3 separate regions of the Homo sapiens genome follow, and all the other regions are linked to region 1. Evidence: fine-mapped expression QTL. A gene starts in region 1. Each other region holds a variant in brackets. All regions are shown on one strand. Distances are from middle to middle.

Evidence for each region. PIP is the estimated chance that this variant, and not a neighbour inherited with it, causes the effect.
Region 2: its variant is fine-mapped to the expression of RAPGEF4 in tibial nerve (GTEx, PIP above 0.99). The same link has a PIP of 0.9 or more in esophagus muscle, gastroesophageal junction, lung, sigmoid colon, subcutaneous fat and sun-exposed skin.
Region 3: its variant is fine-mapped to the expression of RAPGEF4 in ovary (GTEx, PIP above 0.99).

What each region holds. Positions count from the first base shown.
Region 1 is chr2:172,734,275-172,737,035 of GRCh38, forward strand. RAPGEF4 (Rap guanine nucleotide exchange factor 4) reads left to right here and starts at 1,571. Exons shown (of 31, transcript NM_007023.4): 1 at 1,571-1,774. The coding sequence starts at 1,710. RAPGEF4-AS1 (RAPGEF4 antisense RNA 1) reads right to left here and starts at 1,932. Exons shown (of 4, transcript NR_026995.1): 1 at 1,852-1,932; 2 at 1,021-1,187; 3 at 31-159.
Region 2 is chr2:173,016,995-173,019,755 of GRCh38, forward strand. RAPGEF4 (Rap guanine nucleotide exchange factor 4) reads left to right here. Exons shown (of 31, transcript NM_007023.4): 20 at 180-210; 21 at 432-510; 22 at 1,662-1,808. Among named protein-coding and RNA genes, the nearest start is that of MAP3K20, 57 kb to the right of the region's middle. The variant A/G (reference allele first, on the strand shown) is at 1,381.
Region 3 is chr2:173,009,406-173,012,166 of GRCh38, forward strand. All of the region lies in intron 17 of RAPGEF4 (Rap guanine nucleotide exchange factor 4), which reads left to right. Among named protein-coding and RNA genes, the nearest start is that of MAP3K20, 65 kb to the right of the region's middle. The variant A/G (reference allele first, on the strand shown) is at 1,325.

The sequences.
Region 1 (2,761 bases):
GTGCAGCTCCTTTCTCCTCTAGCTCCTTACCTGGAAACCTTCTTTGCAGAAAGGCATTTTCAGAAAGCTTTTGGTGACCTTGAAACATTCTCAGGTGCTCTCTGATGTCTTTATAAATGAAACTTAATATATATAGGAGATACAGTTCCTCCTTCATACCTGTATAGTAAAAAAGCCACAACATAAATACCTTTGGTTAATCTTTCTATAGTATATTATTTTAAATATTAGCATAAACATGATAGAAATTAACAGAATGAAGGTTAACTGGGGGAAAAGCCCTGAGCAGGGAGGGAGGAGTTGCTGTGGGAACACTGTGGCAGGTCTGAAACTAGATCCTGGCTATCCAGCAGAGGGAAATGGCACATATTTGGAGGCTTTTATATCATGGTAATAATTGTTTTATTAGGATCAAAGCATCCCAGAAAGCACTTGCTCTTTCCTTCTCTCCAGTCCCCCTGACTCTCCCCTGAGCAGGGTTGGATAGGAGGTTTGGTGGGGGGAGGAGGCAGGGAACAGTAGAAGAAAGCAATGCTATGTCCCTTTCCCCCATTGTCTGGCCCCAAATGTAGTGCCATAAATATCAAAACAGTGCTTGGTAATAGTCCAAAACATTTAACTTGTCCGCAAATTCCTAAACAACCATTGGCGTGTAATTTGGTTCTTGGCAGAGTGTAACTGAATAACTTGTAGACATGACATTTGTGTGAACATCTACAAGAGACAGGCCGTTATCACCACCCATTCAACACTCCAGCCAGAGGAAGAACAGCAAGGGGGCCAGCCATACAAGTTCACCTGCGCGTCCGGGGTCTCGGTTCTGCTGTGGCCCGGCTACTCCCCATTCTCAACTGTGTTTTCTTCACCATGCAGGTGATGGAAGCCCAGGCAGGCCCAGGGTTCAAGGCCAGTGACTTCAGCCTGTCACCCCCTCAGACCACATCGGGCCCACCGGCCTCCTCCCTCCCTGCCCCTCAGCCCTGCCCGCACTGCCCCCCATTGCGCCCAGCCCTTCCTCACCCCGCAGGAGAAGCTGGCCTCTCATTCCTCACTGAGAGACTCGACGGGCGTCCCCACGCCAAGCCTTCCTCGCCCTCCCCTCCAGCCTTTTCTGAAGGGGAGACAGCAAAGGTGAGCAAGCAACCGCCGGCAAGTTTCGACAGCTGCTGAGGAAGACTCATGGGTTTCTAAGGAAACAGAGAGGCAGCAGCCATTTTAGTAGCATTTGCTGTATGAAAAATATATAGACACTGGCAGCCCTCTCCCCACTCTGCCTTGGCGCCTGCCCTCCCGCCCCGCCTCAGAGGCCCCGGGGTGAGGGTGGGGCCCCAGTCTCCGAGGGACGCAGCGGACACCTGTCGCAGGTGGCCGGCCACCGGGGTCGCCACCCCCAGTGTCCCCCAGCAGCGGGACCGCGGGGTCCCCACCCCGGGGCGGAATCCCCACCCACGGGCGCCGCAGTGCAGCGGCGGGCGGGCGGGCGACTCGGCCCTCCCCGCACCCGCGTCCCGCCCCCCGGGTCCCCTCCCTCTCCCCACCGCCCCAGGCCGCGGGAGCCCGCGGGGAGGGCGGGCCTGTCGCAGCCGCGCTGGTCGCCAGGCGTCCGGGAGGAGCGGGGTCCGCGCGGCGGACGAGGCGGGGGCGGAGGCGCAGGCAGAGCGAGCGCGGGAGGTCGCCGCAGCCAGGGACACCGCGCGCCGCCGCTCAACATGGTCGCTGCGCACGCTGCCCATTCTTCCTCCTCTGCCGAGTGGATCGCCTGCCTGGATAAAAGGTAGCTCGCCGGGGGCCGCAGCCGGGGGCCGAGCTCTGCGGTGCTGCCCGGGCCCTGAGACCGCCGCAGCTCCGCACCTGGGCGCAGCGCGGCCGGGCTGCGGGTGGCCGGGGTCCCCGAGCGGGGGAAGGGGTTGAGGTCCTCGTCCGGGAGACAGGAGGACAAGGATCCCCGCCTCTCGTGGGGTGCCAGCGGCATGAGATTATTACACGTGGTGGAGAAAATGCAGCGCAGTAAGGGGAGAGAGCACCCACCTCTCCAACCCCCTGCCCTGCCGCGACTCCAGGCTCCGCTCCTGGGTGGGGGTTTATTTTCTCTTGGCATCACGGGACAGAAGAATCGATGCATACCCTTTCCGGCTATTCAGACCTTGCGGGGTATGAAGTTTTAAAGAGGGGTGGGGGCACCGGCAGGTGCAGAGTAACATTCTTTTTTTGTTCTTGAAAGCAAAGTGTGAGGGACCCGGTGGAGCTGTCGAATCCCTTGCTGAAATTCACAGCTCTCTGCCCCCGCAGTCGCTCGCTCAAGGTCTGTGTTAGAGAAGGTCATTTGGGAGGCTGCTTTCGTCTTAATACCTGCTTCTCGGGAAAAGATCTTTACGCTAAAAATAATTAAAACCATAAAGCATGTAACTCCCGACGACAGCTCTCTCTAAGGAGGATGTGTGTGTTAACAGTGGATTGCAGTTGTTTCCAGGCTGTGACAGCATAATTTTCTGTTTGTCCAGATTGCAGGTTTAAACGTTACACAGTATGTTAGCAATTATAGCTTATTACCCTGATTAAAAGGTGATGCATCTGAACTTTTAAGAACTGAGCAAGAAATCTTGCAGAGTGAACTGCCTCTGAATTTCGGAGTTTGATGCAGAAGGGCAATGATGCACGTCTTGCAGCTATCTGCATGACATCTCTATTTGCATTTGTGTGAAATATTTTGTGCTCTGCCATATTGAAAAATTTTCAATTAACAGATTCGTAACCAGATCAA
Region 2 (2,761 bases), 280 kb after region 1:
CTTTGCTGTCTACCCTTCTGCTTTGATCTATTACTATTAAAATGAGGAAGCTCATATTGTCTCCTGAAAGGATTCTGTGATTGTGATTTCATTTTCTAACATAAGATTAGTTATATACAAATAAGGCAATTTAATAGTAGCAATGGTATTAAATAATGTGCTTTCTCTACTTCTCGTAGCTCAGAAGATGCAAAGGCACCACAAAAGAAGGTAGGTGGCATGAACTTGCATTCTCTGTCTGTGTCCTGTAGAATTACAATTCCCCAGAAATATTATATTGCAGTATACATAAAAGTGATTTCTTTTTTGTAGACGTGAAATATATTGTCTTCATTTCTTGACTCTGCTTGCTTCTCAGATGTGTCTTCTCTGAGATGCTAGCATGCATTGGTCACTGTCCCTTATGGCACTTGCTGTGGTTGTTTTTACAGCACAAGGTTCTTTTGCAACAGTTCAATACGGGCGATGAGAGAGCCCAGAAGCGCCAGCCTATCCGCGGCTCTGATGAAGGTGAGAACCCTCTTCCAACTAACTCGTAGTTGTATAGATTATTTAGTCAGGATAATGGTAAGCATCACCTTGGACCCACAGAATAGCTTCTTTTGAAGATGCCCTGTTGCCCTCCAGATGGTTTGCTTGGAGGTGCCCTTTGGTGGCCCGATTATTTATGTCCTTAAACTCTTGTGCCTGAAGCCGAGATGCCTGTCTACCTTTCCCTGATTTGGCCTCTCCCTGCTTAACCCCTTTCCTTGGAGGAAATGAAGATGATCTCAGGGCCTGGTTGTCAGGATTGCCCACCCCTGGGAAAAGCTGGTGGGAAGGTAGCTGGCGCCTAGTGGGTGCCAAGGAGACAATGGATCACCAGCATCCTGCCCAGGGACAATGCTCTGGCCCTGAGCCCAGCCCTGAGCAGGGAGGCTTTACATCAGGAAGATCAAGATGCTGGCTTTTGTTTGGTTATTTAAGATTCTCCAAAGAATCACAACCAAAAATAGTCACAATAATAATGATAAAAATTTCATTTAAAGCTATAAATAAATCTTGTCATTTAGGACTGCCTCTAAACCCAGGAATTATAATATAATAATGGGAATTGCTCCCAGGATTTTTGTGTTCAGAGTTGAGCCTCTGGGTGCCATATCCAGATCTGCTGATCTAAGTCTGCTGAGCTAAATAGCATCCGAGCTTACATGGCCTGGCCCCAAAGCACACAAGCCACTGAAGCAAGTGAGCAGGAGTGTCAGCACGTGCTCATGGCCCAGGCGGAAGCCCTCCTGTGTGCAGAGAGGTGAATGGTGTCTCCCCACTGCCACACAGGGTAGCAGTGATCTGTGAATTGCCTACAGTATAGCACTTCAGACCCTGAACATCAGCCTGAAG[A/G]TACTCTCAATTTTTTCCCATGACCTCTTTGTGGGGTTTTCACCAATATCTCTTGTTCTTTTAATTGGACTTGGCAACCATATGTGCACCTATTCTTAGACCAATGCTAAGGTAAGCAGTTTAGAAGGGGCAGGAATAGGGGTAAATGAGTATGAATAAATACAGTAACAAAAATGGCAAAATGATGCAAATTGGAGAGGATGCCTAAACATTTTTCATAACTATAGTTTTATTGAAAACTCTTAAGAGTGATTTACTACCTTGTTACTGCCTTTGGATAGTTCTGTTTAAGGTCTATTGCATGGACCACACCTACACAACCATTCGGGTGCCAGTGGCCACTTCGGTGAAGGAAGTCATCAGTGCAGTTGCCGACAAGCTGGGCTCCGGGGAGGGCCTGATCATAGTCAAGATGAGTTCCGGAGGAGGTAACAGTCTTAATTCATATTTTAGGCTCTGCAAAATGGGACATTCCATCCAAGCAGAAACTATGTAAGGAGTTAGCGTGGTCATGTGAGGCTCACCCAGAGGATGAACTGGTGCTTATGTATGCTTCCACTAATAACAGAAACAGTATGGGTAGAGGTGGGTTGGGTTTCTAATGTCCCCTATCTGGTAGGTACCCACTCTAAATCAGAAAGGTGACTGGAACTGAGGACTGTCGTGTAGATGTTGGCCTGGAGTTCTTTCAATTTAAACTCTATTCAAAAAAGTTTTAGGCCTTGGAGCCCTGAAAAATATGGGCCCCAAGAGGAAATCTAGCTGGACAAGCTCAAGGCCATGGGTTTCTACAAGTCCAAAGTTGGAAGTGGTCAGAAGCTAGTTCTTTGAAGCTGATGATGGTTTTTCTCCTTACTCAGTAGAGAGGCTAGGAGCCTGGCTCAAATGAAATGAGGAATATTTTTCCTCCACGGGATTACAGTTCCTTTCACTGTCCTTGATTACATGGTGCATTTTTGAAATGTCATTTATTCGTTCATCACATATTTACTGGCCACAGTGTGGCTACGAAGGAAAGAATGAGTTAGACACAGCTCACGTCCCCAGGTTGTTCCCAGGCCAGGGAGGAGGTAGACGGTAAGTTAAAACAATTACAGTTCATGCTGGCAAGAGTTTTAGGAATGACCACATATTGTAGTGAGAGACTAGAGGAAGCAACAGTGAGGTTCATTTCTCCAGTCATGATTTGACAGCCATTTGGCGGAATCCTTCAGGAACAGGTGAGCCATTTCTGTCATGTTTTAAGGTGAATGATTCCACTGATGGAGGATTTTTAAATGCATGTTGGATTTTAAGATCTCCCTTCCATTTCTGCTCCAGTTGCACAAGGCCCAGGATGTCTGCCCTCCCTGACCCCTTGTCACCTTCCCATAGATATCCC
Region 3 (2,761 bases), 280 kb after region 1:
ACAGTGAGTTTACGACCTCGTTCCTTCTGTTAAGGATTTTGATTTAATGCTTCCAGATGGTGAGAAATACTTTATTACAGTTTAAGTATTCCTAATCTGAAAATCCAAAATCCAAAATGCTCCAAAATTCGAAGTTTTTTTAGCTCTCATACCAGTAGGTATAATGCAAACATTCCAAAATCCAAAAAAAAAATCTGAAATCCAAAACCACTTCTGGTCCCAAGCCTTTGGGAAAAGAGATACTCAACTGTGTAAGCAAAACTTCAAGTTGGAATTTGAATGATCAGATTTAACAGTGTCTGCTCAGTCGCAGTGAGCCCCTGCTTTCCTAATTGACAGGTATTAAACTATAGCAGATGGGATCTCGTTCAGGTATTAACGATTTCTGTGCCTCTCTATCAGATTATGAAGGCTGTAATAGTTAACTCTTGATTTTCTGCATGTGCTTTGTTATCAGGATTTGGGGGATCAATTTCTACATCTCAGATGGATTTTCCTATTTCCCAACAAACTTTGAAGTCATCTGACTCTGCTGTATAATCTATGTTTGCATAAAGAAAGTAATGTTAACATCAGACAAAACACAACAACATAGGTAAAAAGAGTACTGGGGAGGAAAATAAGAGAACTGAGTTCTAGTTCCAAGAATTCCTTTGATAAATTTGGAAAAATCACTTAAACTCATTCTGCCTCAGTTTTCTTACCTCTAAGGTGATGGAGTTGAAGGAAATGTAATCAAAGGGCTCTTGAAACAGAGATCCTGTGATTCCATGACTTACCTGAAATCAACTCAAATGTGTCAGTGATAAGTTTGGCCACTTAAATTATATGGCCTTTCCTTAATGGTGTTTAAAATACTAATTCAGTAAGTAATTTTAGATTGCCTTACAGACTTTTAAAAAACTAGAACTTTATGAGATATAGGAACCATGTTGTCTTTCTGCATCTCTTTCCCTATGAGTTCAGGCAGCCATATTGCTTCTTTCCTGGACCCAACTGTCATATCATGAGTCATGGCCTTATTCAATAAAAGCACTTCTTGATCATGCATTATTCCAATTTTAGCCAGAGACGGCTTCTTCAACCTTCCTGATGTGTCTGAATTTATGAACATGCTGTATTTGAAATGTTACTCTTTTTAGATTGCACTTTTGACATCATATTGAGACAAGGGAACTAGTAGGATATTCTTTATTCCTTGGCTGCTACCTGAAGGGAATATAGTTTTTCCCCCTTCCTACCTTTTTTGTAGGAGTTAAATAAAAGCTAAAAATTACAAACTTTCTAAAAGCCTGGGGAGATTGTTATGGGAATGAATAGAAAC[A/G]TCAGCATCTGATCTGTAACCATTTCAGGTATAATCAATTGTATACAAAGTTCTCTCTGTGTTTCTTAAGAACCTGATTCAACAGACATTTCAGAAGGGGAACCCTATGTGTTGCCTCTGGAGGAGCAGAATCCTTTAGCAATGCCTGGATTCAGCTATAAAAGAAGTATCACCCCCACCCTCACTTTAGTAAATAAACATCCATGAGGGGACAAATGAGACTTTGTGAAATAAGTCAGCGCTTCCTTTTATTTTCCCAGGGGTAAAAATACTGAACTTTCGTGAGAAAAGGGAGAAAGCCTTTCCCAGTCCCTCCGGATTTGGTCAATTCTATCTCCCTAGAGGCTGTGGGGTTCTTCATCAAAGACAAGGGGTGCTCAGCCCTGGTGACTAAACATGCTGAATCAGCTGCGGGAACCTTGGAACTTCAGCGCGCGCGCGCACACACACACACACACACACACACACACACACACACACGGAATCTCTTTCCCATTAGGCTTTTTGCTTTCCAGATGCATTTATTCTTAATAATTTCATGAACCCAAGCACTAAGGTCTAGTTGCTATAGCTGCTGGTTAGGATAGTGGGGGTGGGAATAGTGGAAAGAGCCCTGTCTGAATTTGCAAGCCCTGCCATTTATTCACTCAACAACCTTGGCCAGATCTCTTCTCTCTGAATCTCCTTTTCCCCACCGGTAAATATTTCCTCCTCAGGTTTGTAGAAAGCATCATTTGATAGCATAAGAATATTGACTTATTTTATGAATTGTAAAGCTCTATACACATGTTATCATAACAAGTAGGAAAGAATCTTTCCTCTCTCTCTCTCTCCCCCCACTCCTCCTTTCTCTCTTACACATGTGAATACCTCCTTTCCAACATGTTGTCCAATGTAATATTTCAGATGAATAGGACTGTGCCCATTGTATCACCAGAACCTAGCATGGTGCTTTACTCAAAGTAGTCGGTTAATTAATAATTAGTGAATCAATTGGATCAATTTGAATAGTTTCTTTGCCTAAGTACTTGTAAAGCATTTTGATGTATTTTCTCTGAAAAGCATATTAATTCATTTGAAAATATATTTATTTCTTAAAAACCACATTAGCAGACTCCGTCTCAAAAAAAAAAAAACCACATTAGCACCTTAATTGTCCTATCTTGGGGTTATTTTTCTAAATTGAGGCTAAGTGTTCACCACTCTATTACTACCAGCTCAGTAAAAGCTTCCCTTTCCTCTCTATGCTGTTTCCATCTTTGAGTGATTCAAAATATGCTCATGTTGCATGTGTAGTGAAATATTTTTAAGATTGTAGTTTATAGAGTAACTTAGGGCACAGTGTGACATTCTTTTAAATTGGCATGATCTGAGAGAGAATTAAATTTGCTCATTTTTCACAGTACAAGGCCATCAGAAAGGTTGTCTTTCACAGGC